3 separate regions of the Homo sapiens genome follow, and all the other regions are linked to region 2. The links come from fine-mapping of genetic effects on gene expression. A gene starts in region 2. Each other region holds a variant in brackets. All regions are shown on one strand. Distances are between the middles of the regions.

Region 1 (10,307 bases), 110 kb before region 2:
AAATTTAAATTAGTAAAAATTAAAAATATTAGCCAGGTGTGGTGGTGTGTGCCTGGGGTTCTAGCTACTCAGGAGGCTGAGGCGGGAGGATTGCTTGAGCCCAGGAATTCCAGGCTGCCGTGAGCTGTGATCAAGCCACTGCAGTCCAGCCTGAGTGACAGAGCGAGACCCTATCTCTAAAATAATAATTATTATTATTTAAATTAGTTGAAGTTAAATAAAATTGAAAACTCAGTTCCTTGGTTACACCATCCACACTCAAGTGGGCTTAGTAAGCACAGTTGCTAGTAGCTACTGCACTGGGCTGGGCAGCCTAAAGACCAGGAAGCTCTACCAGCCAAGAGACCAGCTTGAGCGGACGCATGGGGAGAATGGGAAGGTTTGCCATTGCAGAGAACAGGGTTTGTGGGCAAGTCATTCATTTTGGCAGGATCCTAGGCTGTGATAAGAGGAGGTGAGCGACTAGCTTTTTCCACAACACTAGGGATCAAGGCAGGTCCCCACCATGCCGGTGCTTATGAGGACAGCTTCCCCACTATGGAGTTGCTGGACCCAAGACTACTAGATTTCCCAGTCTCACAGACCAATGAAGAACAAAAATGCATAAATATGGGTAATTGGGTGGTACAGGGCATCTGGACTTGTTTAGAAACCTTTTTTTCTTTTCTGAGACAGAGTTTCACTCTTGTTGCTCAGGCTGGAGTGCAATGGCTTGATCTTGGCTCACCACAACCTCTGCCTCCCGGGTTCAAGCAATTCTCCTGCCTCAGCCCTGGAGTAGCTGGGATTACAGGCATGCGCCACCATGCCTGGCTAACTTTTGTATTTTTTAGTAGAGATGGGGTTTCTCCATGTTAGTCAGCCTGGTCTTGAACTCCTGACCTCAGGTGATCCGCCTGCCTCAGCCTCCCAAAGTGCTGTGATTACAGGCGTGAGCCACCACACCCGGCCAGAAACCTTTTATCTATAGAGACTCTCCCAGGCCACAGTGCTGCTCGAAGAATGATAATTCTATTGTCATTAAATATATCATATTGCTTTGCTTGTAAGTCTTATTTAATTCCAACCCTTCTCTGCTTCTGACTGCATTGTTTTCATGCATTATGGCTCATATAACATAGTTGCCTGTTCACAAATTAAAACAAATATTTATTTTTGCTAGCTTCTATGTTAAACTGGAGTTAATTCTATAGCAGACATATTTAGAATCATAAACAGTGTTTTATCATGCAGGGCCATGATACAATGACACCATTGTATTTAGCATTGCCTTATTACAGTATACTAGTCTGACACTACTTGAGAAAAGTAGGAAATTTAAAGAGGTAAAGTGGAGACAACATTGGTAGGAGTAGAAAACAGGAACTAAGGAAATAGTGAGAACATGGGATGATTCACCCTGGAGGCAGGAAGACAGAGAAGCAAACACAATTGTTATCAGGAATGCATGAATGATACTTTACTTCACTGAATCTAAGACATGGTGAAATGTAAGATGCACCCATATTTTATGTACTGAGAAAAAATACTAACAATCAAATTCTGGAATGCCAATGATTATAATATGAATCCTGATTTCACCAATATGAAACTGTGAAAAAATGTTAATGTTACAATAAAAGAAATGGGTTTTATACAAAAACTGGTGATTGGACATACTTCATTGACACCAAGGAGCCAACATTTATTTAGCACTTGTCCTCAAGGTCTTGTGCTGAGGTGAGGGATGGTGGTGACGGGTAAAGAAATGAATGGGAAACACTCTTCAGTCATTAAGAAGCTTACACTCTAATGGGTGTGGCTCAAAGGAGGGAATGATCACAGAATTTGAGGAGTGTTTTCTGATAAATATTGAGTGATGAATAAACACAGCTTTGAGTACTAGAAAAGGGAAGGAAGGGATGATAACGTGGCAGAAGGAAAGCTCAGGTATGTTCAGGGGTCAGTGAATAGACACTCTACGGAATGTACAAGACATAAGATAGGAAAAGTAAGTTGGAGAAAAAGGGCTTTGAGCAGGGAAGTTATAATCTTTTGGAAAATCAATTAATTTGCCATCAGAATATAAACTGGTGTAGTTTTTAACCATTTTGGTTGCCAGTGACAGAAATTCAACTAAAAATGGTACAAATGAAAAGAAGATATATTGGAAGGATACTCCAGGGGCTCATAGAATGAAAGGGGATTTGAAGGCAGCAGGGAAGCTCTAGGGAATTAAGGGTCTGGAATTGGGTTTCAGCATGTCCCTTCAGGGTCATATCTCCATCCAACACTCTGTCTGTCTTCATTCTCACCCACTGCAGACAAGTTTCCTCCACCTGCTGTGGGTGGGTGGGTGAAGTGGCCTTGACGGTCTTAGGCCCACAGCTTTCTAGTTCAATCACCCAGTGTCAAGGGTCTTTCTATGTTTATTCCACTTAGAATAAACCTGGGGAATGAATTTAACTGGTCTGGGCTGGGCCATGTATGTTGAAGGTGATCAGATCTCTGTGATGTGTTTAAGTTGAGAAAGCTAGAACTCTTCAAAAACACTTTTATTTGGTTCCACCTTTTTGCAAACATCTGTTAAAGGGAGGCCATGAATTTGAAAAATGAAAGGCTGCTTAGTTTGAGGAAACCAGTGAAGAAGGAAAATAACATTAAAAATAGTGGAGAAAGTTCATGCTAAATTCAGTAATGTGTGAGGGCCACAGTCTATGTGTTGATGTTCATAGAGACTGGAAAGCCAGGAGAAAGAGCTGGCATGCGTGGAGGATGAGGAGTTTGAGTTTCACAAGGAACTAGAAATGTCAAATAAAAAGTAGCAAATGTTGGTGTGAGCCTGAGAGGGAGATAAAGATTTGGAACCATATCCTAGATATGCTGAATGAAGCTATGAAAATGGCCAAAACTGAAGGGGAAGAAGCAGCAGACAGCAGGTCTGTGGACAAGAGCTCGGGAGTATATATTTAGGTGGGAGGAGGATTGTGGTAGAAGCTGGGAGGAGGGAGTTTCTCAACAGGAGGAGGGTGGGGCTGGGAGCAAATAATAACCATAAAAACAAGAAGGGTAAAGACTGAACAGATGTGACAAGGTGTAGGCAGGAGGCTCGGTGGCCACAAACACCAGGTAGACAGCCATCCTTGGCTGTCTTAACCACAGTGATTGAGGAAGGTAGAAGTAACATGTTCAGAGAATTATGTTACTTATTATGGAAAGACTATTATAGATTCTTATATTTTTGAAGGCTTAAAACATAACATGGTAGCAGACCCAGCCTGAATAAGGGCTGTGTTCTCAATGGTTGGTTCCCCAAACTATTACACTGGAATTTGGGGGAGTGGCACAAGAACAGCGTTTATAACTGGATCATCAGATCCAGTCGTCACAGAAGATAAGAGAACAGCCATTAAAGTGACCATATGAGGTAAATGGCAAGTATAGAGTGCATCCTCCGCTCAGCACCAGGCTAAACGCCAGACGTGTGATTCCTGATTCAGTTCTCACATCAACCCTGCTGTGGTAGGAAGGACTTTCCCGTACTCCATACCTGCTAAGCTGTGGGGCCTCCCATAACTGCAGTCAACACATCTACGTAGGTGGATCTTGCATGAAACAATCCATTTCTCATAGTATTTTCAGGAAAAAGGTGATTCATTCCCCACTTAGATGGACAGAGAAGTGGTTAGAAAGAGCAGATAGAAAATCTGGGTTATGCTGAAACACATCTACATGGTTATCTCTACACTCAGGTGAGAACTTGGAGTTAAACCAGGACATCTTGGTTTAGCTTCTTGAGGCTGGAAGCTGGCTTTGAGAGACACATACATATTCAGGGCAGCCAGGGCAGAGGCATTATGGGTTTCCATCACCGACTCTGTTAAAAGCACTATTCATTTAATCAGTGCGCAAGGAGAATCCACAGCCGCC[G/A]CCGTGACCACCACCATTTGAAACGTCTTGTCTTTTTCATTCCATTGCAAAGGAACGGAGGGCTGTGGCCTAGAGGATTAGCACCGGTATGGAAGCAGCTGACTCCCCACTCCCACCAATCACTAGGAAACGGTACCGGTAAAGAAGGCTGTGTGCCTTACATGTGTCTGAGGACAAGTGTGCTGGACTCTTCTCATGGAGAGTTAAGTCCTGTGCTAGGAGGGTCTCATGGCCCAGCCTACCCAGCCTCCAGAGCCATCCGGAGCCTGCTCATATCTGCAGCATAAGAACATTCCCCATTAGCAGATTGGATAAAGCACTCAGTCCTGACCCTCTGACCTTCAGATGGCATTTAAAAAATGACATTTGGGCCAGCCATCGATAACATTAGGTTTCGGATTTATTTTAAAAGCTAAATTGAAAAATAAACCTTCGCTGTAGTACTCTGTTGTTTAATCTAAACTGACCAGGTTAATGGTGGTGAATACTCTTCTGCACTGTGTCCATTTAGCCCAACATGGCTCAAATTTTAATGTGCATATGAATAACTTGGATATCTTCATAAAATGCAGATTTTGATCCAATAGTTTTGGGAGGGGACCCTGGATTATGTATTTCTAACAAGCACCCAGGAGATGTTGGTGCTGCTGGTCTGCGGACCAGGCTTTAAGTAACAAGGCCCCAGAGACCCCTGCTCATCATTTGAAGTGAAACTCAGATGTGTCACCTCCCGTCTGTGGCATCCTGACAAGAGAGCTCACATTCCCCTCCCAAGGCAGAATGTATTATTATCTCATCTGTGATCCCAAAGCATTTTGTGCATTGAGGCACTTCCTTTATGTTGTGATTATTCTACTTGAACAATGGTTCCCAGGCTGGCTGTATGTGAGTCACCTGGGGAACTTTTGAAAAAGTATCAGTGCCTAAGCCCAGCCCCATTCTGATTTTATTGTGGTCTCAACTCTCTCTCTCTTTTTAAATGACACTATTTTTAAAAGGCTGTTAAGGGGGATCACTTGAGCCCTGGAGTTCGAGACCAACCTGAGCAACATAACAAGACTCCTCTACAAAACAGTTTAAAAATCAGTTGGGTGTGGTGGTGTGCACCCATAATCATAGCTACTCAGGAGGCTGAAGTGGGTGGGAGGATTGCTTGGACCCAGAAGGCTGAGGCTGCTGTGAGCTGTGATTGTGCCACTGCACTCCAGCCTGAGTGAAAGAGTGAGACCCTGTGTCTGAAAAAAATAAAGGCTGGTACTAAAGTCTGAAATAAATTTCTCTGGGAGAGTATTGTCTGGACATGGTTTCTAAACTGTGTTCCCTGGAAACAAGGGGTTCTCTGGAGGGGCTTTAAGGTCTACTCTGGAGGAATGGGTGGGAGACAGAAGAACAAGAAGGAACACAGTGCATGGGGACAAGAGATGGAGTCAGCCAACCAGCCCAACAAAGAATACAGAGCCTACTATGAGCAGGTGCTCTTCCAGGAACCCAGTGCTTTAGTTCTTCCAGGAGCCCAGTGAAGAAGGATTTACAGAGAGAGAAGAGGTAAAGGGGGTGAGTTCCAGGGCCAGGGCTGGAACTGGGGCTTCTGTCCCCAAGCCCTTTTCACTTTTCACAGTTTCCTATAAGAAAGCTACGGAGTTCCAGGAAAAAAAAAATGGCCCAAGGGAGGTTTTAGTCTTCTTCTACCAACGTCCTTTCAGATCATTCCAGAAGGCACCTGACTTCCTGGCCGCAGGCACGGAAATCAGGGGTGGGAGGGTCAGACAAGCACCCACAGAGCTTGGATTTGCCTGAGCTGCTTGGAAGAAGCTTCCAGCCCTGGATGCTGGGCCTCTGGTTGCCAGCCCTCTTCTGGCCTCCGGCCTTCACCTGCCTCTTCTTTTCCTTTCCCTAAGAAAGCACCGCTGTTCCACCTCCGCTAGGAAGCTGGCAGCTGCTGCCTCCACATCTCCAACTCTTTCCTGGTGTCTGCTCTACCATGGCATTGGAGAGGCTGTAGAGTGGCACCTAGCCACAGACCTTTCTCATCCTCCTGTGAGCAGAAAGGGTACAGGAGGGGAGGTTGCCCCAGAGAATTTAACCATGGATGTAATAAGAAGCCCTAGAAGGTAAGCTATCTGAGAGCAAGGATTTTTGTCCATTTCCTTAATTGCAGTAATTTAGGGTCTACAACAGTGCTTGGCACATGATAGATGCTCAGGAAATATTTATGGAAGAAATGAGTGAACTCTTCTTGCCCATGAGGCACTGGGGACTGTGCTGAATGCTTACTTACATTGTGTCATTTATTGTTAGCTACTGAGGTATCTCATTCATGTTCTTTGTGGGGGCAGGAGCCTGGAGATTCAGAGGATGCACTTTGCTAGCTCTGTGGCCATGAGCCATTTATTTACTCTGAGTTTTAGTTTCTTTACGTGAAAAAAAAAATGTGTGTGTGTTTGTGTGTTACACACACACATAATTCTGGCCTCTCAGAGTGGATGTGAGAAGTGAGTGAGCCAATGTACCTACCCAGCCCAGGCTGGGTGTAGTGGCTTATGCCTGTAATCCCAACACTTTGGGAGCCTAAGGGGGGAGGATCACTTGAGCGCAAGCAACATAGTGAGATCCTGTCTCTACAAAAAATATTTTAAAATTAGCTGGGCATAGTGTCATGCACCTGTAGTCCCAGCTGTCTGGGAGGCTGAGGCAGGGGGATTGCTTGAGCCCAAAAGTTGAAGGCTGCAGCGAGCTGTGATTACACCATTGCATTCCAGCTTGGGTGACAGAGAAAGACTCTATCTCTAAAAAACAAAACAAAACAAAAACTAAAATACTCAGCCCAGTGTCTGGTCCCTGAGGAAAAATGAAGTAGAAGAAAGAGATGAGGAGAGGGGAGGAAAGTGAGGAAGGAGGAGAAGAGTGTTGCCATGTTCCCAAAAGGGGAAGAGCATTGCTAAGTTTTAACTTTGCCAAATGAAAAGATTTAAAACCACCCACAACTCAAAATATTACTTCCATCTCTTATCACTGTCATTTTTTTTTTTCTTTGAGAAGGAGTCTCGCTCTGTTGCCCAGGCTGGAGTGCAGTGGCATGATCTCCACTCAGTGCAAACTCTGCCTCCCGGGTTCAAGTGATTCTCCTGCCTCAGCCTCCCGAGTAACTGGGATTACAGGCATAAGCCACCACACCTGGCTTATTTTTGTATTTTTAGTAGAGACAGGGTTTCGCCATATTGGCCAAGCTGGTCTCGAACTCCTGATCTCAAGTGATCCACCCCCGCCCTCACCTTCGGCCTCCCAAAGTGCTGGGATTACAGGGGTGAGCCACTGACCCACTGTCATTTCTAAAACAAAAATTTGAACACTGAAACTGTGGGAAGGTCTGATTTCAGAATATATGAAATTCTTCCCAAGAAAACTCAGTTTGCACTTTATCCTGGACATTTTCACCAAAAGAACAGATGAGGGCTGGGCGCGGTGGCTCACGCCTGGAATCCCAGCACTTTGGGAGGTGGAGGCAGGTGGATCACCTCAGGTCAGGAGTTTGAGACCAGCCTGGCCAACATGGTGAAACCCCGTCCCTACTAAAAATACAAAAAATTAGCTGGGTGTGGTGGCACACACCTGTAATCCCGGCTACTCAGGAGGCTGAGGCCGGAGAATCGCTTGAACATGGGAGGCGGAGGTTACGGTCAGCCAAGATCATGCCACTGCACTCCAGCCTGGGCGACAGAGTGAGACTCTGTCTCCAAAAAAAAAAAAAAAGAATCCAGAGTGAGATAAACAGCTTGTATAATTTTCTGGATGTTCCTTCTTAATAATAAAATAATACAAGAAATAAGACAGCATTTAAAAACAACACTGTGAATAATAATGTATGACTACATGAGTCAGTAATCTGGGCCATTTGTACACCTGGGATTCAAGTTACTGCTTATCTTAAGGCCATAGTGTCCAAGAATAATGACATCTTTCGTTTTCCACAATACTATTCTGCCCCTATTTATTGCATGTCATGTACACATGCCACATGAATATGGGCATCTAAAGAGTGGGAATATGTAGTCATATCTGTCATATCTGTGTTCTGGGAAACTTACCTTTTCATAAACTATTACCAGATACAGCTGACAACTTTTATCGAGTTATGATTCGCATGCACTAAAATATACAGATCTTAAGTGTATATTTCCATTCGTTTTGACAATGTGTGTACCCATTAGCCCACAATCTACAGAGATAGAACATTGTTGGCACCTCATAAAGTTCTTCCATGCTCCAGATTAATCCTTATAATCACCTTCCCTTACTTCACAACTACTGTTCTGAGATCCATCGCCATTAGATTGGTTCTATCATTTCTAAAACTTCACATAAATGGAATCATGAGGTATGTACTCTTTTATGTCTGGCTTTTATTCACTCCACATAGCATTTTTTAGATTAATTCATGTTGTTGCACGTATCAGTTGCTCATTTTGATTTGCTGCTGAGCAGTATTCCATTGTATGAATAACCAGAATTTCTTTATCCATTCTTCTGTTGATGGACATTTGGGTTGTTTCCAGTTTGGAGAAATAAATCTTCTTACAATAAATTATTTAAAATGATTTTAAAATAATAAATGTATTTATAAATAAAGCTTCTACAGATATTTGTGTACAAGAGTTTGTGTAAACATATGCTCCTATTTCTCCTAGCACGTACCCAGGAGCAGAATTATTAGGTATTAACTAGGTCAGTGAATTTTTTTTAAGAAAGCATTTTATTGACATATAATTCACATGCCATACAATTTGCTTATCTAAAGTGTACAATTCAATGATTTTTAATATATTCACAGAGTCATGTAACCATTACTGCAATGAATTTTAGGATATTTTCATCACCCCAAAAAGAAACTGCCTGTCCTTTCATCCCCAATTTCCACATTCCTCCCCTCCCCTAGCCTTAAGTAACCATTAATTTACTTTCTGTTTCTATAAATTTGCCTGTTCTGTACACTTCATATAAATGGAATCATGCAATGTATGGTCTTTTGTGACTGATTTATTTTACATTGTGTAAGTTTTCAAGGTTCATTCATGTTGTGGCATGTATCAATACTTTATTCCTTTTTAATTGCCAAATAATATTCCATTGTATGAATATACCACATGTTATTTATGATATTTGGTTTGTTTTTATTTTTGGCTATTATGAATCATGCTGCCATGAACATTTGTGTACATGTTTTTGTGTAGACATATTTTTTCATTTCTCCTGGGAATAAATCTAAGAGTGGAATTGCTGGGTCATATGGTAACTCTATATTTAACTTTTTGAGGAGCAGACTATTTGCTAAAGTGTGGACCATTTTACATTCCTACAAGCAATTGATGAGGCTTCCAATTTATCTGAATCTTCATCAACACTTACTACTGTCTGTCTTTTATTATAGCCACTCTAATGGGTATGAAGTGGTATCTCATTGTGGTTTCGATTTGCATTTCCCTGATTGTTAATGATGTTGAGCATCTTCTCATAAGCTTATTGGCTGTTTGTATATTTTCTTTGGAGAAATGTCTATTCGGATTGCCCATTTTTAAGTTTGGTTGTCTTTAATTATTGGGTTGTAGGGGTTCTTTATGTATTCTAGATATAATTATCAGATACTTATCAGATATACGCTTTGTAAATATTTTTTCCCAGTCAGTTGGTTGTCTTTTCACTTTCTTGATGGTGTCTGTTGAAGCAGCAAAATTTTAAATTTCAGTGAAGTCCAGCTTATCTGCTGTTTCTTTGGTTGATTGTGCTTTTGGTGTCATACCTAAGTCAGGCGTACGTTTAATCTTATAAAATCCTGAAGGTGTTATGTGAGTTGTGCATGTCTTAGCACAGAAACATGCTCATCTAAGATAGTTACTCGTGAACGAAGCTCAGGGGTGGTGAATATACAACTAGACCCTTTGTGAAGTTCAAGTGAAGAATTTGTGGAAGAAGTTGCCAAGATGAAGCAAAAAAATACAAGTTCATGCAGTTTTTAAAAGTTATCTACCAATATTCAATCAAATGAAGAAAATAGGCTTGGTTTGAAAATTCATGTTTACAATTTGTAGATGAGTTGCTCCTGGTGGGCTGTTGATGTCTCCATTTTACAGTGGAGAAAATTCCCGGACTCTGTTTCCTTATGTGTAAAATGGAGGTGCTGACTCCTACCTTGCCTAACTCACAGAGTTGTGAGAAGCAAATGAGTGAATGCATGGGAATGCACTTGTCAGCTTAAAGTCCTGTATAAGTGCAAAGTGGTGATGTTGTCTACGATAAATTCACACAGTTTTCCCTTGAGCAACTGTTGTAGAACTTCATCTTAGTCTGTTCAGGCTGCTATAACACAATACCATCAACTGGGTGGCTTAAACAATGAACACTTG
Region 2 (10,307 bases):
AAGATACCCTAATAGTTAAAATGATCACCCTTTGAAAACAGGGCCTGGTAAGGTGCTAAGAGGTGGGATACCCGGGTACAATCTAGAAGCACTGCTGTGATGGTTCTGCTATCATTCCCTCAGTACCGAGCTACTTCTGAGGAAAACACATGGTTTTGCTGAAGCAGCTGAGCACTGGCTCCTTGTGCCTGGACCATTAACTACTATAGTTACTACTATGGTTGAAATTTCTGGTATAAAAAATCCAAACCACTTCAATGATGTGTGCTCCTAGGTACTAAAAAGTGAGTTCTTCAACATAAAGAAAGACAAATAAAAGGTTTCAGCACCAGACAAATCGGAAAAGCACAGAATGAGAAGTTCCACAAAAACCATAGCTACTCATGTTCCATATTCTCTCTCAGGACATAATTTATCCTCTTTGCAAAGAACTCAAATTAAAGTAAATAAAATGGATAAGTGTGGTTTCTTCCCATAGCTAATAGAACGATCTCTCGCAAATCTATTCAGTTGCAAAGACAATTTCATATGAAAGGACAGATGTTTTCCAGACACCAGATTATTGACAGTTCAAAAGAGAACTTAATTGTCAACATGTTTGTTATTCCTATGGTTTCTAAGTGCTACTATTTTAATACTCCAATTATGAACACCATAATGAATCTCAATTAGAAGAGGCTTGCCAAATGTCACTCCATAGATCAAGACATCTTGTTATTGTCTTTCAATTTACTTCTTAAATATACAAATGTGGAGTTTTCGTCTCTGGTTTAGACATAAAAGTATTCTATAGCCTGTGTTCCCCTAAGAAGTTTATCTTCAACTTGATTACTCACTCATGTTCAGCCATATCTGGTAGATAAGCAGCATTCTCTTGTGATGGGTGGGCCATAAAAACAACATCAAGATTTGTAAAAGCCCCTGCTTCAATTAAATCAATTTTGCCACCACCATCTTCTTCTGCAGGGGTTCCCAGGACAACTACCTAGAAGGAAATACTCATGTCAGGGAAAAACAACAAAATCCTCATAGGAATATATCAAACAGGTTCACCTGCATATGTATTCACAATCTACATTAAAGTCCTTAACCTATTAAGACAGGTTTTGTTCTATGACGCTTACGCAATGGGCATCAACAAATGGTGCTAAATTAATCACAAAATGTACATTGTTATACCAACTTGGTGCAAAGTATGTACTAAAGACACTATAAAAAGCTTTTCCCAATTTTACAAGTCAACTAATGGCAAAGATAAAAAAAAATACTACAAGTTTAGTCCCTCAAAATTTGTTAGGATTTGTTTCAAAAAGGTTCCTCTCGACTAAGCCTTTCAGTGTATGTATGTATATAATTATTCTTAAGTACTTTACGAGTCAGAAACTTTCTGTTAACTTACTACTTATCCTCACAACAACCCTGTGAGGTAGGTGGGTGATCTCTATCATCATTTTACAGGGGGTGTTTTTGAGGAATTGAGTGAAGTGTCTTGCCCCAGGTCACAGAGCAAGTCTTCAGGCAGAATTAGGATTAGATGTCCTGATCTTCTGGCCTAAACTCTGATTCCTTACTGGGCTACCTATTTTAAAAGTCTGAACTCATTAATCCTTTATGAAGAACATTAAACAAGTCTTAATGCCACAGTTAGAAACAGCCAACTATTACACAAACTTACTAATTCGATTCCACCAGTTCAACCAGGCAGATTTATTGGTCACCAAACACCTAATTAAACAAAAGAGAACTTTACAGAATAAACATTTTACTTTGATATTTAAGCTTAACTGCTTCAAACAATTTTAAAAATCAAAATAAACAACTAATATATTTTCAAGATCATGTATAAGAACACAATGAAACAAGCTGGAAAAGTCTTGGCTTGCAAAGGAAATCAACTTAAATTCCATTTTCAGATAATTAATAACTTAACCTTGCTAAAATTGAGAACAACCATTTGAAGTTAGAAGAGTGGGCCGGGAGCGGTGACTCATGCCTGTAATCCTAGCACTGTGGGAGGCCGAGGTGGGCGAATCACCCGAGATCCGGAGTTCGATACCAGCCAGGCCAACATGGCGAAATCCTGTCTCTACTAAAAAATGCAAAAATTAGCTGGGCGTGGTGGCACACACCTGTAATCCCAGCTCAGGAGGCTGAAGCACGAGGATCGCCTGAACCCGGGAGGCGGAGGTTGTAGTGAGCCGAGATAGGACCACTGCACTCGGCCTGGGCGACAGAATGAGACTGTCTCAAAAAAAAAAAAAAAAAAAAAAGAGTGTACATTTCTCAAAGTTTAGCTTTTTTTTGGCGGTTCTACAGTGCTCAAACTCTGACATGAAGCCGCCGCTCTTTTTTTTTTTAAGAGGAGGCCTCGCTCTGTTGCCCAGGATGGAGTGCAGTGGCGCGATGTCGGCTCACTGCAACCTCTGCCTCCTGGGTTCAAGCGATTCTCCTGCCTCAGCCTCCCGAGTAGCTGGGATTACAGGCGTGAGCCACCACGCCCAGCTAATTTTTTTTTTTTTAATATATTTTAGTAGAGACAGAGGTTTCACCATGTTGGCCAGGCGGGTCTCGAACTCCAGACCTCAACTGATCTGCCCACCGCTCTTCATTCTTGACCCTTAACTCATTAAATACGATATGTCTCTCGCTGACTACTCAGAACCTTTAAAAACGTGGTTGAAGCGAAATCTCTCCAGTGTTTGTGACATGGCAAAGCATGCTTCCCCCAACCCAAACAAAAACCTAACAAATGCAAAAACGAGCCTCCAGAGACAGAAAAAAGAAGGCAGCTAAAGTGAAAAAGCCACAAAAGATGTAGTGTTAGGATAAAAGAGGAAGGTTACTGACACTGGGGGAAATGAACTAAAGAGTATGAAAATAAAACATTTGTTTTCCCCTTAACTGAATGACGATTGAATCTTAGCTCATAGTGTAGAATATACCATCTGGAAAAGCAGAGTAAAACAGGATTAAACTTGCCCTACGACAAACATAAACGACATTTCCCTGTTTAAAGAGTCGAGGTATTTCTTAAAATCATAAAACAAAAAAATTAAGACTTAAGGATGAACTCATCTATGTATAATGCTCATTCACTTCCCCTTTATTTGTATACTTCTAGGGGTCTGGTGGTTCTAGCGACTGAAAATTCCTATCCAAATACCAATGACTTGAATCACATTTTCTAGGACTGCCACAAACAAAAGATTTATTTGGAGACGAATAAAAAGGGGCCGTAGGATTACCTACAAGAAGTTATTTCCTCCTGAGATTGATGGCACAACCTTGTCAGCAAATTGCTGTTGCCTCTCTCAGTTACCAAAAATAACCCGTAACAAACACCAGGCTTGGGTGTAAGTTCTTTCCTAAGGGAACAACTCAGCAGAGCTGTTTATAACTAGAGAGGAGGAAACAATAATCTGCAAGATGTCGCCAGGTCGGCAACGCGAACTGACTTTGACTGGGGGTTCAGCTCTGCTCCTGCGCCGAGGCGAGGACCGCAGGTTTAGCGCGGTCCCACACACACCTGCCCCGGGCGGGAGGGCACCGAGGCGCGCGGGACGCACGAGAGTCCCGCCCTTCCCGGGTCGCCCCCGACCCGGGCAGTCGGATAGGGTCCCGCACCCGGGCCCCACCTCACCTTCACGGGCGGAGGCGGCCTGGGGAGGCCCTCTAAGGCCCCCCTCACGCCCAGCGCGGCCGCCGCCCCGACCTCAGCGATGAGGTTGTGGCCGCAGGCGTGGCCGATGCCGGGCAGCGCGTCGTACTCGCAGAGGAAGCCCAGGTGCAGCGGGCGTGGCGTGGCGCTCGGTGCCCGGGCCTCCGGCGGCTCCCACTCGGCGCGGAAGGCCGTGGGCAGCTGGTAGTGCGGCTGCACTGCCCAGGAGGCCGCGGGCGGCTCCCGCTCGAAGAAGTGCGTCAGCACGCGGTGGGCATGGTGCTCCTCGTAGGCCAGCTCGGGCTGGCTCCAGATCGCGCGGCTCAGGGCCCCCAGCCGCTCGGCCGCCTCGTCGATGCACTCCGCCGAGCGCAGCTTCAGTAGCTCCAGCTCGGAGCGGCCATTGCACGCGCCCCCTTCCACGGGCCGCTCCCCTCCGGGCCTCATGCTGCCCAAGCCCGCTGCCCTCTGCGCCCTCTCGCTCCCTGGCTCGGCCGCAGGTAGCGACCGCCCGCGCACGCGCCCAGAGGCCTCCAGGACCCCGGCGGAGCGCGCACGCGGCCACACAGCTCCCAGGGCACCACCCCCAGTCCCGGGGCCGCCCCCGGCGCCGCGCGGGAAACGCTGGCGGCCGCTCGTACCCTACCAGGCGCTCTGCCCCGCCGTGGGGTTTTGGGGGTGCTGTGGAGAAGGCAGGGCTCGGGACTCTTCCACCTCCTTGGCTGCTCTGGCCTTTGAGTTATGCTCTAAGATTATCGATTACTTTTCCGTTGTTGCTTATTTCCCACAGCAGCAGAATGAGAACGGTTATTAGTTAATAGCCATCAGAGACAGACCAAGTGGAACACAGTCCTCGGAAAAACGCCACTCTGTAGCATTAGTAATTAAAACCTCACAAGGTTTGTATTTCCTGAAGGAGGCCGTCAGTGTCAATGCTGTACTAACGACGGTACTGTACGTAAGTTTCGGTACTGCCCCCACTTTCTTCTCCTTGACATTGTATTACTAAAAGCTGCAGCTACTCTCTACAGTTTTCTCATTGGTTACTAATGTCTGGAACAGCAGCTAGATTATGCAGTAAGCTCTTGGTATGTATTAGCTATTATATAATAATTTATTTGAATAGAGTAGAACTAAAAATTTGAAATGAGTTAAAACCAAAGAGTTAAAAGATTTATGGTAGTAAATATTCATACTGTTTTGTTGATTTGGACAGTTGTCTTGAACAGCTTTGAAAGGGAACATATGACAGGTTTCGTTTATAATTTTAATTGATGCTGAACTCCACTAACATGATATGTGCAGCTGGTGTTACATTATAACTGAGTTTTTTAATTACCCAGTGAAGAAATTCAAGATGTCATGCTCTTGTTTTTCTCCAGAGTGAACCACAAAGTCTGAAAAACTGTTGTTGACGGTATGCCTATTAATAACACTGTAGATGTTTATATTCTGAGGTTTTCCACATATTAAAAGCTTCTATCAGCTCTTCATACCCTATCATCTTTCCTTAATTTGTCTCAACTATGTTAAATGGGACACAATATATTAATGTGATAAACCAAATGAATATTTTGAAAATAAGTCTAAGGGAAGCTAACATGCACGAAGACTATCAACTACTGTTTTTACTACTCTATATGCTAATAATACCAGAGTAAATGTCACATTCCATTCACGTCTGAAAACTTTCTTTCTCAGTTAACACTCCAACAAAAACTCAGCTCTAAAAACAACAAATGTGTTATTAAATTCCTGGGCCCCCTTGGCGATAATAAATCTTTCTCTGGTATTCTGCTGAAGAAAATTACCCTGTATCCACGAGATCCAATATTATCCTGCTCAGTTAGTTGGCTAAAAAAAGGGGAGAAGGGGGGATTGGAGAGCAAAAGCAATAGGTGACATTTGTAGAGCAATTACTCTGTGCTAGGCACTGTTCCAAGGGCTTAGCATTTGTTAACTCATTTAATCCTCACAGCAAACTATGAGGTGGTTAATGTGGTTATTTATCTTCATTTTACAGATGTATGTCCAAGATTATAGAGCTAGTAAGTAGTGGACCCACTGTAGAACAGAAGCCAGAGTCAGCCTCCAGTGGCTGACTTTCAGCCACCATGGTCTATTGCTTGTGTAAACAGACATGCAAATTCATAAATGCATCTCCAGTTTATCTATTCAAATCAGAACCCACAACACTCATTTTGAATAAATTTTACTGCAGCAACTCTGCCTGCTGACATCAGTAGAACCCATGTTTGCCCTCCTCAGGCATCAATAAACAGCAACAGAAAAGGGATGCATATAATTTCATATAGAAGCTGCTATTTATATTGCTTTGCAGGAATTAACAAAGCTGCCACTTGAGGTAGAGGAAAGACAGATTCATTTCAAGCTCTGTTCCTTGTGTATATATGTGGGTGGGTGGGTGGGTATACATGCCCACAGGCACGTATGTATTCAGTTTCTACTGTTGACACCTTGTATTTCTTGCTCATGGTATTTTGCACCCTTGAATTCATTTATTTGATAAACTGTGATAACTTGCTGACCGTTTATCTTCCCCTCCAGGCTTTAAACTCTTTTGTTTTCCCACTGCATTCCCCAGCACCTAACATCTTATGGTCAGCATTTCCTCTGTGTTAATAAATATTTGTTGGCTGATTATTCTTCTTGAATCTAATAAACTAACTGAATAATGGCAGCAATTAACCATTAAACGACACTGACTACCAATAGACATTGTTATGCTTCTTCCTAGACTTCTCAGTCCTTTATGTGGAGCTGGGGGCAGGAAGAATTGCTTCTGGAAGCTGATGGAGTTGGACATGTGGCTTTCTAGAATCTGGTCAGCTCATAAATTCTTACTATTACTTTCATTTGTACCCATAATATTCATACAACTGTCTACCCTATCTATGTGCTACTGGTAAGGAACCTGTATGTTTTTATTAGAAACAAAAAAAAATGTATACAAGCTCCCTTCCTTTAGCTGGTGCTGGATCTGAGGAAACAATACAATATCCAGAATTTAGTATTAAGATGTATAACCTTTTTGGGGGGGTGAGAGGAGTGCAGATAGTTCTCTCTTGAGGACTGGTTTTAAAGTATATAAATGTTCTTTCTTGGCTCCTGATGAGAAAAAAGGGGAAAAAATATATAAAGATTCCTCTTCTTTCCTGGCTGCTTAGAAAACCAGCTGTCATCACAACTGACTCAATAACTTTGAGAACAGGACATTCATGACAAATGAGTGCTGTGGTGGAAAGAGTAGATCAAAAATTTCCTTTACCCTGGAAAAGCAACTAAAATACAGCCAAATTGTACAACTATACTGGGTATTATTTTGGGCTTCAGATTCAGAACTCCTTTTGAAAAGGCAGCAGGCTTTTGTATGGTTTATATTCTTTGAATTAAGATAGAAATAATAAAATAAAATCCCCAACATGGCAAAGCATGAGCTCATGGCAAAGCATGAGCTAAATGAGAAAAAAAAGTTTTTGAAAACAGAAAAAGGAATGGAATGAAAAATAAAATGAAGAAAATTAAAGGTAGAGAAAAAGTAAATAGAAGTACCAGAGAGCTTCAGTGCAGGATTTCAGGAATGAAAAGCAAACAAACAAAAATAATTGTGGGGGGCCGGGCGCGGTGGCGCACACCTGTAATCCCAGCACTCTGGGAGGCCGAGGTGGGTGGTTCACGAGGTCAGGAGATGGAGACCATCCTGGCTAACATGGTGAAACCCCGTCTCTACTAAAAAATACAAAAAATTAGCCGGGCGTGGTGGCACGCACCTGTAGTCCCAGCTATTCGGGAGGCTGAGGCAGGAGAATGGCGTGAACCCGGGAGGTGGAGCTTGCAGTGAGCCGAGATCGCGTCACTGCACTCCAGCCTGGGTGACAGAGCGAGACTCCGTCTCAAAAAATAATAATAATAATAATAATTGTGGGGGAAAGGAATAAAAAGTGCAAAAATGATTTAATCCAAGGAGAGAGTGCAGATATTTCACCAAAAAAATCAAACTTATAATACCTTCAAAATATATGATATTTCCAAAAGTGCATGTGAATCCAGCCTACATCGTTTCAGTTTAACAATACTTGGAACTACAGCAATTTTCTCCTGAACAAAATGCTGGCCACTGCACGATTTGAGGACTGCTGCTGCCAGCATGGAGAAGAAGCAAATCACAGTGTCACTTTGGTATACTGGTCATTTACAACATTCTCCTAAGCATCCCCAGACACACATGCAAACTTGGTTAACTCCAGAAACTTCTCTAGCTGAAACAAACACGTAACACGCACTAGATAGCACATGTAAAATCAATCTGGGCTAAGGTGTTGGAAGAGCTGGTTGTCATATGGCAGAAAGCAGACAACTAAGAGAGTAGGTGAGCAGAAAGGTGAATTTGATTGGGGATGAAGGGACATAGAGGAAGTGTACAACACATTGCTAAGGAATTACAACTTTAGCTGGTTTTGGTGGCTCATGCCTGTAATCCCAGCACTTTAAGAGGCTGAGGTGGGAGGATAGCTTGAGCCCAGGGGTTCAAAACCAGCCAGGACAATATAGGGAGACCCTGACTCTACAAAAAATAAAATAAAATAAAATAAATAGTAAATAAGCCAAGCATGGTGGCACACATTTGTGGTCCCAGCTCCTCTGGAGGCTGAGGTTTGAGGATCGCTTGAGCCCGGGAGGTCAAAGCTACAGTAAGCATGATTGCACCACTGCACTCCAGTCTGGGCAACAGAGTGAGACTTTTGTCTCAAAGTAAAATAAAACTTGGACAATGGCTAAACTATTGGATGTTATTAAGCAGGAGAGAGACAAGATCAGAAATTTGTTCTACAAGAATAATTGATGACTATTTGGAAGATGAATTGGAAACAGACTTAGGTCTGAGATAAGTTAAAAGCTTTTGCAGGCCAGGCGTGGTGGCTCACGCTTGTAATCCCAGCACTTTGGGAGGCCGAGATGGGCGAATCACTTGAGGTCAGGAGTTTGAGACCAGCCTGCCCAACATGGTGAAACCTCATCTCTACTAAAAACACAACAATTAGCTGGGTGTTGGGGCGGGCGCCTGTAATCCCAGCTACTCAGGAGGCTAAGGCAGGAGAATCACTTGAACCTGGGAGGTGGAGGTTGCAGTGAGCCAAGATTGTGTCACTGCACTCCAGCCTGGGTGACAGAGTGAGACTCTGTCTTTAAAAAATAATTTAAAAAATTAAAAATAAATAAAAGGCTCTTGCAAAGTCCAAGGATTCCAGAAACATTCCGTGGGCAGAAATGGCCAGACTTAATTCCTCACTGAATGTCTGTTTAGGTGAAGAAGGTGCTCCAGAGAAAGGGGGAAAGAGAACTGAAGTTTCTCGGGTTAACAGCTGAGTGAATGGTAAAGCCATGAAACAAAATAGGGGAAATAAGAGAGTGAGGGGCAAATTGATGGATGTGCATTAGACACGTGGAGAGGAGGTAGATGCAGTTGTCCAGGAGGAGACCAGCAGAGCACCAAGGAAAGTGCATTTCTACATAGCTAGTATGAGTAATGGTATACCCAGAGGGGAATTAAACCATCCAGGGAGTGAGTGAGTTGAAAGGGAAAAATGTAAGCTGAGGAAACAACCCTGAAAAACAAAAAGGGAATGAGCAAAAATACCTGACAGACCCTTGCTTCTGCTGGGCAAGATTCTATTACAACTCGTTTTCAAGTTCTGTGCGGATTTCTTCAAATGGCCCACAAAGTGAAGGCAGTGACTTTAAAGCCCTGAATGTCCTGGTACCTGATGACCTGAGGCTCCCTTTGGCTTCCCTTCTCTTGGCAGTGAGATTAGCTGCTCTGTTCTCCATCACTATTCCTGGAAATGAGGACAGGGAGGTTCTGAGAGGATAGGCTTTTCCTTTGCCCTGATTCCCCACAGTGTGTACAAAACAACACTGCAAAGACGTAACCCAGCTTGTGGTTAACAAGAACATTTCTCTCCTACCGTTATGGCTTAGGAAAATGGGTGGAGAACTTTGACTGCCCCTGGTCCTCTATACAACATCTAGAGCTTGGGCCCGGTGCAGTGCTTTTAAAGTCCTTGAAGAGATTGATCCCTCAAGCAATGTGTTCACCTCGACTGTGTACATACCATGGTTAATAATTACCTTTACTAAGGATTCACTTCTCAAACTTCCTGGTCAATTTGTTGCTACATATTTCAAAGATGCTAGCAGGAATGGATGGCAGGTATAGATGGTCACAGGGTTACAATCCTCAAGGTGTTCTGTGGGAATAAATTTTTATTAAAAATGTGATAAGTCATTAATAAAAATATGTGTGTTCTAAAAATTAGTAAATAGGACAGGACTGGTGCTTCATGCCTGTAATCCCAGCATGTTAGGAGGCCAAGGCAAGAGGATTGCTTGAGCTCAGGGGTTTGAGATCAGCCTGAGCAACATGGTGAGACCACCCCCCCATCTCTACAAAAAAGTTAACAAAAAAAATCAGCTGGGTGTGGTGGTATGTGCCTGTAGTCCCAGCTCTCTGTCTCTGCATGTGCATATGCTCACGTTTGTGTAACAAATGTAATTTGTTTATGGCTGGGGCCCTTTTGCAGCTTCTCCGTTTGCTCCATTTTTATCTTTAGGCCAGACTTGAGGCATT
Region 3 (10,307 bases), 400 kb after region 2:
TCTATCCTATTTATTGGATATTGAATTCTAAGTAAACAGTTATTTTTTCTTCAGCATATAGACAGTTTTATTCCAGTATCTTCTGACTTTCCTTGTTGCTGTCGACAAATCAGCTGTTCGTATAGTTGTCTTCTTACCCCAAAAGAAAGGTAACCTTTCTTTTCTTTGTTCTTGTTTTTAAGATTCAATCTTTGTATTTGATGTACTGTAGATTTACTATGATGAGCCTCGGTATGGATTTTTTTTTTCCCCAACTGGAACTTATTAGGCTTGTGGAAAGTGCATTACATTGTTTTTCATCATTTCTGAGCTTTTCCTGCTATTATTTCTTCAAATATTACTTTTCCCCATTTTTTTTCTTCTTTGCTTCCGGCATTTCACTTGATTAATTGGTTAAACAAATAAATATTTTCTGTATTTGCAGTTACTATTTTAGGAGCTTGTGATATATTCATGCAAAATCAGATCCCTGATTCATGGAACTTACATTTTATTTAAGAGAGACAGACAATAAACATAACAAATAAGTAAATTAGATAATATGTTGAAAGCTAAATCAGTATTTGTAAAAAAATTAAGTATAATAAGGGGTTGAGTGTTCCAGTTTGAAGGGGAGGAGTGACAAATTAAAATATTTTAAGTCCCATTGATAAAGTAAGATTTGAGCAAATAGTTGAAGAAAGTGAGGGAGTTAGCCAAGCAGATAGTAGATATGAGGGAGAAGCACCAGATGGAAGAAATAGCTGGAGCAAAAGATCCTGTATAGGCCTTGGAGCCTGTGTGGCAAGAGATGACTAAGTGAAGGAGGGAGAGAGAAGTAGAAGAGATCGGGCCCTGTATTATCTCATCTTATGGCTACTGTTAGGGCTTCAGCTCATACTCTGAGGGAAGTAGGAGGCATTGCTGGGTTTCAGGATGATAACTGACATTCGATTTGACTTTTTTTTTCTTTTAATTTCCCTTTGAGAATCCCTCTTGGATAGGAAAGGGTCAGGAAAGAGTTCATTGTAGGAATCCAGGCAAGAGTTCTTGTGACTAGGATGGTAACATTAGTAATGGTGAGAAACAGTCAGATTCTGGATCAAAAGATCCAGAAGGTGTAGTGTAGTGATTTTCTTTACTGTGTTAGTTTAGTTAAACTAAAATTGCGTTTTCCAGAATTCTCTTCCTTGTGTGGTACTAGATGATAGCTAGCCTTGAGAAATGTGTGATACTTGGAAGGCAAAAATAAAACAGCAGTCATTACATTCAGATATATACATAATCATTGCTCTGTTGGCTTACCTGTTAGCTTCTGTGAGTCATGGGCCAAATGAATGTATAGCTCCATAGGAAAGGGAAACAGATTCTTCTGCAGGTCATCTACAGCATCAGGTTTAGATAAGATTGAAAACAGACTTGGGTTCCAGTTTGTCTCCATCAGTTCCAGTTTGTTCTCAGGCATTGCAGTTTGTCCTATTTTATGTCCAGGCTTTCTTCCCAACTGTCTGCCCTGCTGTCATAGACTTTAGGCTCACCATCAAACACGGGGATACAGGCTTTTATAGACTTCTTCACAAGCTCCCATTAATGGTCTCTGGTTAGAAGTATTTTTCTGATCCTCCAACTATCTCCTTCAGGATCTTTACTCCCTCGCTTCTACCACAGTAGTATAAGGCCTAACTCTTATAATAAACTCCTGATTCTATATCACTGGATGGTTCTGCTTCCTAGATTAAAGCGTAAGTGGTATATTGAGCTGACAGATTTGAGAAAGAGGAGCCATGATTAATTCCATAGGGAAGAATGTGGGATGAGTGGTTTGGGAAAAAGGTTGAGGTTTATAATTGTTCACAGCCATTTGAGATTTATATGATGTATGTATGTGCAGGACGGACTGATAATTAAATGGGAATGTGATAGATATCACCATTCCTGCTTCTTTCAAATTTTGATGCCCACCCCCTGCCCCAACACAATATTGCTTTTGGATTACTATTTTGCCAGGCAAAGGAAGTTCCTAGAGCTTTTCTTTATCTCTTTCTACTATAATGACCCTTAACCCATGTGTAAGAGAGTGCCTATGGGGATTCTGCCGGTTATTAAGTATGTCTATTCCAATTATACATTCAGGAATAGGAGAAAGTACCACAGGGTGAGTCTGTGGACTGACTGGGTCTGCTATGGGTCAAACTTGTGTTAAGACTTCACCCATCACCTGATTTCTTTAAGTCTTCACTTTGATGTGTTGTGTCATAGTAGCGTGTTGTGCCCCAAGAGTTGGCATCACTTCCCTGGAATCAGTATAGAGTATTTCTGAAAGGTCTGGATATTAATTTTTCTCCATGACATAATCATTCTAGTACAGGGGTGCCCAACCCCCAGGCCAGACCAGTATAGGTCTGTGGCCTGTTAGAACCAAGCTGCAACAGCAGGAGGTAAGTGGCGGAGGAGCAAGCATTAACACCTGAGCTCTACCTCCTGTCAGATCAGTGGCGGTATTAGATTCTCATAGGAGCACAAACCCCATCGTGAACTGCTCATGCAAGGGATCTAAGTTGCGTGCTCCTTATGAGAATCTAACTAATGCCTGATGATTTGACATGAAATCTTCCCCAAAGCATTCCCCCACCAACATTTGTGGAAAAATCATCTTACATAAAACTGGTTCCTGGTGCCAAAAAGGTTGAGGACCGCTGCTCTAGTAGATAGCAATAGGCCCTTCTGGGGATGATTTGGTACATAATTTAAAGCATATACTTGTGGCAAAACTACAGGGTCTTTCTGCAAGGGGACCTGGCCTCCCCTTGCATCAGGGGCCTTTGGGTGTTGGGACTGACTTGTATCTGAAAACTGGGTAAGAGGGGAGTGGCAGGCCACAGCTGGACCACAGGGAGCAGCCAGTTGGTTGTGAAGAAACTTGCTGGAAAATGTTGGAAAATCAGAGTTGGTCTGCTAGAAGCCACTCTTTGGTGGTGGGGAAATTTGCCATAGAATACCGGCAGGCTAGAGCTGGTCTGCTAGAGCCTTGCAGGTGAGTGCCACCAGGCTTCCCACACAATATTTAGCTGACAACTGCATCATAGAAAAACATCCAAACCAGAACCCAGGCTATGCCCTTGTAGTGTCCCTTCACTGCTCTGTACTCACAAAGCCTGACATTTGTACCTGCTGGCAAAGGAGCAGGGTTACAGGGTCCTGATCTTGTATCACAAAGCAGGGCAAGAGGGTAGCTTTGGAAATAAGAGGCAGTAAATTGATAACTTCCACAATTAAAATTGATAACTGGTACAGTTATATTTGAAGTATATAAGGGGGCCAAGTTATTATTTTGAAAGCCAGGGCAAGAATCTAGCCTTTTTTTCTTCTGCTTTTTTTTTTTAATACGACACATACTTCAGATAGCCAAATGGTAAGTTTCTTTTTATGAAAGTTTTCCAGCCATGTAATGAAGAAGGAATAATAGACTATCACCATTTTGTAACTTCTAATGTATTTAGACCGGCACTCTTCTATAGAAATATGTGAGTCACACATGTAATTAAATTTTTCTAGTAACCATAATAAAAAGTAGAAACAGGTGAAATTAATTCCAATAACATATTTTATTTAACTCAATATATCTAAAATGTTGTCATTTCAACATCAGTGTAATATGTATCACCCCATGTGTCTTTTCCCTTTGCTGATTTTCTGTGCATCCTTTTGTTGTAATAACTTGTAACTGTGAGTGCAACATCTGAGTCCTTTGAGTTCTTCTAGGGAATCCTCGAACTTGATTCCCAATACCTCGATTTGGCTTTGTCTGGTACTTTCTCATAATTAGATTGAGGTTACGCACTTTTTGCAAGAATACCACAGAAATGATGTGCTGTTTTCAGTGTGTCATATCAGAGTAGATGATATAGATATGTCTCATTACTGGTAATGTTAACCTTCATCACTGTTAAAGGTGGTATATGCGGAGTTTCTCTTCTTTAAAGTTGCTGCTTTCCTTTTTCTAGTTAATAGGTTCTTGGAGAGTGTATGCAAATATTCTGTTTCTCCTCAAACTTTCTCCTACTAGTTGTAGCTTCTATTAGCAGATCCTGCGTGCAAAAATTATCACTGCAGTGTTCCTTATGGTAATTTTTTATTTCCAGGAAAAATACTTTGTTTTAACCTCTAAACTGATTAGAACTATATATACTTAGAAACAATAAGTTGGTTTTATTTGTAACCAAAAATATTCATAATTTGATGAATTTCCTTAGCTTGTTATTTATATTAAGCATCATATTTGTAATGTTTCGTTAACTTCCCAAATACTTGAAATTTATCTCATTTTAATTGTCATGATAGCAGATGATTATAATCCTGAGATTTTAAGCTACTTTCTCCTAAATTACTCATCTTGTTTAGTATATGTTATAATAACAATGCATTGAAATTCTTTGTCTTATTAAGAATCAACCTCATATCATAGCATAAAAAACTATTCATATGTAATAGCAGAAATCAGGTTTTCTAGAGGAAAAGAGCTAATGTAATGATTAGTTTTCTCTTCTTCTATTGTCTTCTGTATTTATAAAGAGTAGTAAGAACAGGCCGGGCACGGTGGCTCATGCCTGTTATACCAGCACTTTGAGAGGTTGAGGTGCATAGATCACAAGGTCAGGAGATCGAGAATATCTTGGCCAACATGGTGAAACCTCATCTCTACTAAAAATACAAAAATTAGCCGGGCGTGCTGGTGCGCGCCTGTAGTCTTAGCTACTCTGGAGGCTGAGGTGGGAGAATCGCTTAAACCCGGGAGGTGGAGGTTGCAGTGAGCCAAGATCAAGCCACTGCACTCCAGCCTGGATGACAAGAGCAAAACTCTGTCTCAAAAAAATAAATAAATAAATAAAAGAAAAATAAAAAGGAGTAATAAGAACAATCCTATTCTTACCAACTATTTTAGAATGATTACTAGTTGTTGACAAAGCTGTTTTATTTCCTTATGTTAAATCATATAGTCAGGAGATGATGAACTCATGAAAGCTTGTTTGATAATGAAATTTATTGTATAGTGACAAATGCAAATATAAATTCAACATAAAATGTAGCTTAAATATGGTATTTTTATTTCTTTGGGGGAAAAAAGGTGAAGAGTACCAACAAAATGTTTTTAGGCTTTATACTAAGCCATTTTTATTTATCATTTCAATTCATCATACTAAACCTATAAAGTAGATGTTGTTGCTATCTTCATTAAAAATAAGTAAACTATTGGCATGGCTGCTGTGGAAAACAGTATGGTCATTCCTCAAAAAATTAAAAATAGAATTATCATATGATCCAGCAATTCTGCTTCTGAAAATGAGGTTTCAAAGAGATTTATACCCTCATGTTTATAGCAGCATTATTCACAATAGCTAAAATGTGGAAGGGATATAGTGTCTGTAGATGAATGGTTAAGCAAAATGTGGTATATACATACAATAGAATATTATTCAACCTTAAAAAGATAGGAAATTCTGACATATGCTACATTGTGAATGAACCTTCAGGACATTATGCAAAATGAAATAAGCCAGATACAAAAAGACAAGTACTGTGTGATTCCATTTATATGAGATGCCTAGAGACAGGAAGTAGAATGGTGGTCACCAGGGGCTGGAGGGAGTGGGGAATGGGAAGTCATTTTTCATAGGTGTAGAGTTTCAGTTCTACAAAACAAAACAAAACAAAACTTATGGAGATGAATGGTGGTGATGGTTGTATGACATTATGAATGTATTTAATACCACCGAACTGTTCACTTAAAAGTGGTTAAGATGCTACATTTTGTTCTGTATATTTTACCGTAATAAAAAAAA[T/AT]TGGAGAAAAAAACAAGTAAACTTCTTTAAAGTGGTTCAGGAACTTGTCTAAAATCACATAAGTCTTAAGTATAGGAATTAGTATTCAAACAAATCCTTGTTATACTCCAAAACTTACTCCTTTTCTATCATAGTCATGGTTTTCAAACTGCTCCATGAACAATACAGTGTTTTATTTGAGTGAAGAGTCTTCACTGCCCTTTTGTGCATTTTTAATACAAAAATTAATGTTTACTTCTTATGTTATTATTTCAGATCTAGCTTTGGGAAATATAGCGTATCTTCACATTTGGAAATTGTAGGACTAGCCCTGTAATGCCTATTTCTTCTGAGACATTGCTTCTGTAATCCATATCTTTTTCTCCAGATGAAAGGTGACGTCTTAAACTGTGACTTAGCAAGCCACCTATGCATTTGCCTTGCATGTAAATATAAATAATAGGGGTAACATTCTATTTTTCTTCCGAACTATAATTCTAGAAAACTTCTCTCTAATTGCTACTCATAAGCACCCTTTGAAAAGTTTTTAAAATCACCTTTACACTTTAAGTGAATGCTGCCAAACTTCAACAGTTAGCTATTGTAATGTAATCTAATATTGGAATTCATTTAGTGCTTACTGGTAAATTTTCTCTCCTACCTGGGACTAACTCTTCCAAGCCTTGTCAATAGATCTGGGTCACTTAGCCACAGCACTCTTTGTCACAATCAGAGCATGCCGTGACTTCTAACAAGCCTTTCTTTCCCCCAACGTAGTCTCGCAACTTTTCCTTTGAGATTACAAAAGGAAAGATGAAAGAAGAACAGATTATTGATGGCAATGATTTAAAAAGCTATCATGATATGTTAACTTGTCATGTAACTGTATGTGTAAACTTCAAATAATTTTTGAAACAGATATGATATGAGCTAGTTGTTTTAGGTCTTTTAAAAACATTCTTAAAAGAAATGCCTTTCCATTGCATATTTTAAATATATTTGAACAGAACTGATTAGCTTTTAAACAAAAAGTCATTTCCTCTCAGTTGTCTGTGATTTCTCTCTTTGGGCTATTGACCTTCCCTCCTTTTTGGAAGGTAAATGCTCAACTTTCTACCTTTATCCGATACATGTTAAAGTATTGTTTGTTTTGGCTTTGCTGTGTATATGTCCTATTTGTCTGAATCAGCATTTTTGCTTTACACCATATGCCCATAGAATTCAGGACCTCTTGTTTTTACAGTGCAGTGTCATCATGCTGTAAAAGAAAATGCATTTAATAAATGTTTTTTAACATCAGTTAATGAAGTATGTATGTTTCAGCTTTCTTCTTGTAATGTTTTAGATTTAGGTTATTTTTATGATCTAGATCCTTATGAAAAGAACACACGATCCTACTAATAGCAACGGAAAGATCAGGTCGTCCTACCAGTCGATAATTATTTGGGGTTATTTGCAATTATAAAGCTAGTATATATTTATGAGGAGATGGAGAAAGAAAACAAAAGTTCAGAGCCATGAAAAGGAAAAGTCTGCCCCCTACCCATTACCCACATATAACCACTATTAATAATTTTTTGTATCTAATTACTCATTAAATCTCTTGAAAATGTGCTTTCGAAGACTTCATTGCTGGATGTTGGATTGTGATGTCACATCATCTTTCAGCTTTGTAATATGGAGCAGTTTTTCATTTCATTTATTTTAAATTTAAAAATTTTTGAAAATAATTTTAACTTTTATTTTACATTCAGGAGGTAATTGTGCAGGTTTGTAACATGGGGTATATTGTGTGATGCTGAGGTTTGGGGTATAATTGATCTTGTCACCCAGGTACTGAGCATAGTACTCAACAGTTTTGCATCCCTTTCCCCTCTTTCTCCCTTCCCTTGAGTCCCCCATTGTCTATGGTTACCATCTTTATGTCCATGAGTACCCAGTGTTTAGCTCCCACTTATAAGTGAGAACACGTGGTATTCGGTTTTCTGTTCTCACATTTAGAATAATGGCCTTCAGCAATATCCATGTCGCTGCAAAGGACATGATTTCCTTCTTTTTTATGGCTGCGTAGTATTCCATGGTGTATGTGTACCACATTTTCTTTATCGAATCCACTGTTGATGGGCACCTATGTCGATTCCATGTCATTGTTATTGTGAATAGTGCCACGATGAACAAGTGAGTGCATGTGTCTTTTTGGTAAAACAATGTCTTTTCTTTAGATATATACCCAGTAAGGGGATTGCTGGGTCAAATGATGATTCTGTTTTAAGTTCTTTCAGAAATCTCCAAACTATTTTCCATGATGGTCAAACTAATTTACGTTCTCATCAACAGTGTACAAGTGTTCCATTTTCTCTGCAGCCTAACCAGCATCTCATACCAGTCAGAATGGCTATTACTAAAAAGTCATTTCATTTCTTTTTTTTAAAAATTTTACTTTAAGTTCCGGAATGCGTGTGCAGAACGTGCAGGTTTGTTACATAGGTATATGTGTGCCATGGTAGTTTGCAGCACCTATTGACCCATCCTTGCCTACGTTCCCTCCCCTCGTCCTCCACCCCTCAACAGGCCTTGGTGTGTGTTGTTCCCCTCCTTGTGTCCATGTGTTCTCATTGTTCACCTTCCACTTATGAGTGAGAACATGCAGTGTTTGGTTTTCTGTTCCTGTGTTAGTTTGCTGAGGGTGATGGCTTCCAGCTTCATCCATGTCCCTGCAAAGGACATGATCTCATTCATTTTTATGGCTGCATCTTATTCTTATTCTTTTCTTTTTTCTCTTTCTTTCCTTTCTTGTTTTTTTGTTTTTTTGAGACAGGGTGTCTGTTACCCAGGCTGGAGTGCAGTGATTTGATCACAGCTCACTGCAGCCTTGACCTCCCAGACTCAAGTGATCCTCTTTACCTCAGCCTCTCGAGTAGCTGGGACCACAGGTGTGTGCTACTATGCTTGGCTAATTTTTTAATTTTTTGTAGAGACGAGGTCTTACTATGTTGTCCATGCTGGTCTCAAATTCTGGGCTCAAGCGATTCTCCTGCCTCGGCCCCCCCAAAGTGCTAGGATTAAAGGCATGAGCCACCATGCCTGATCCCGTTTTCATTTTTTGATCGCTTTTAATTCTGCTGTTCCCTTTCTGAGCAGGTGTAAACTCTAGAGTAGCCCTCTTGCTTTCTCCTGAGTATTCTTTCCTACTTGTTTCACAGAATTCCTTTACTTTCTTCTCTTAGAATTTTCTCTTCCTGCTTCTGAAAAAGGAACATTGTGATTTTAGGAAAAATTTGTTTCTCTGGAAGAAGAGTAGGATGATATCTTTGGTGTCAGCAGAATGGAAGATAACTGATAAATGAATTTTATTGATTCCTCTAAGATGGTATTAATTAGTAGACATATTTTATGTATTACTTTAAAAAATTAATTCTGCTATTCCATAAATTATATCTAAAGGATAAATCCTCATGGGAGCTTCATATAGTAGTTCAAATTTTCTATTTGCTTGGTATAATAAAATTAAACAATGTTAGTTTAGATAAATGGAGCATGTGTTAACATATATATATATATATATATATATATATATATATATATATATATATATATATAATTTTTTTCACACCAGTTACACGGGAGAAATATATCCTAATTCCAAAGTGTGAAATTTGAACTGACAGAATTATAAACATTTTTAACATTTTAAAGTATTTTCAATCTGTTCTGTATGTGATGAGATATTTTTTGAGCCTGTCTTTGTCACATGTTAGAAAATAGTTCCTAAAAGCAAAAGCTCTCTAATTACTTTCTTGTTTTCATACATAAACATAAGTTTACTTAAAATTTTTCTGCTCTATTATTCCAGTGATGTTTTTCTGTGTTTCTGTATTTATTTAATGATGCTTTTGAATTTCTTTAGTGTTACAGGAAAGCTGTTTTCTCTTAGTTTTGCCTTCTCCCTTTGTTCTTCATTTCCCTTGCTTGCCTCAAAAAAACACTTACCAGCTGGAAGTGTTTAAACTGTGAATTGCTGGGTATTGGCCCAACATGAAGAATCCTCTAATTTAATAAGCTTCTTAGAAGAGTTCTTGGTTCCATAAATTTGCTTCACCTTTTGTCTTACCAGCTTGTTAATAATAAGAATAGTATCATTTGTGTGTTTAATGCTTCTAATATGCTTGATTTCCCTTGTATGTAGTTTATATACATTATCTCATTTAATCAAGCTTTTTAATGATTTCTGTTGGCTACAGTGAAAATTTGAGAAAGTTTTTTTATCTTCTTTATATAATTGCATCACATACATTAATAACATAAAGTATAAATTGGTGTCAGTTTTCTAAAGTAAGGAATAATTTTAAGATATAATTATTTTACATTAAGAATTTTAATTTAGTAATTATTTATACATCATTCATTTTAAAATTTCTTTTATGTGAATGCATTATTTCTTCCTGTTTTGGAAGGGGTGTGTGTGTGTGTGTGTGTGTGTGTGTGTATTTTATTTATAGACTTTAGTTT

What was found. PIP is the estimated chance that this variant, and not a neighbour inherited with it, causes the effect. A credible set is the group of variants that fine-mapping cannot tell apart.
Region 1: its variant is the best candidate, but not a certain one, in a credible set for the expression of PM20D2 in tibial artery (GTEx, PIP 0.83).
Region 3: its variant is the best candidate, but not a certain one, in a credible set for the expression of PM20D2 in lung (TOPMed, PIP 0.80).

Annotation. Positions count from the first base shown.
Region 1 is chr6:89,245,799-89,256,105 of GRCh38, reverse strand. GABRR2 (gamma-aminobutyric acid type A receptor subunit rho2) reads left to right here. Exons shown (of 9, transcript NM_002043.5): 9 at 1-1,642. Among named protein-coding and RNA genes, the nearest start is that of GABRR1, 34 kb to the right of the region's middle. The variant G/A (reference allele first, on the strand shown) is at 3,910.
Region 2 is chr6:89,139,943-89,150,249 of GRCh38, reverse strand. PM20D2 (peptidase M20 domain containing 2) reads right to left here and starts at 4,195. Exons shown (of 7, transcript NM_001010853.3): 1 at 3,641-4,195; 2 at 837-985. The coding sequence starts at 4,105. LOC101929004 (a long non-coding RNA gene) reads left to right here and starts at 3,384. Exons shown (of 4, transcript XR_942766.4): 1 at 3,384-4,557; 2 at 6,417-6,503. RefSeq lists a silencer at 3,449-4,378.
Region 3 is chr6:88,738,817-88,749,123 of GRCh38, reverse strand. The region is part of intron 13 of RNGTT (RNA guanylyltransferase and 5'-phosphatase); the gene reads left to right. Among named protein-coding and RNA genes, the nearest start is that of RNGTT, 220 kb to the left of the region's middle. RefSeq lists a silencer at 5,547-5,747. The variant T/AT (reference allele first, on the strand shown) is at 5,820.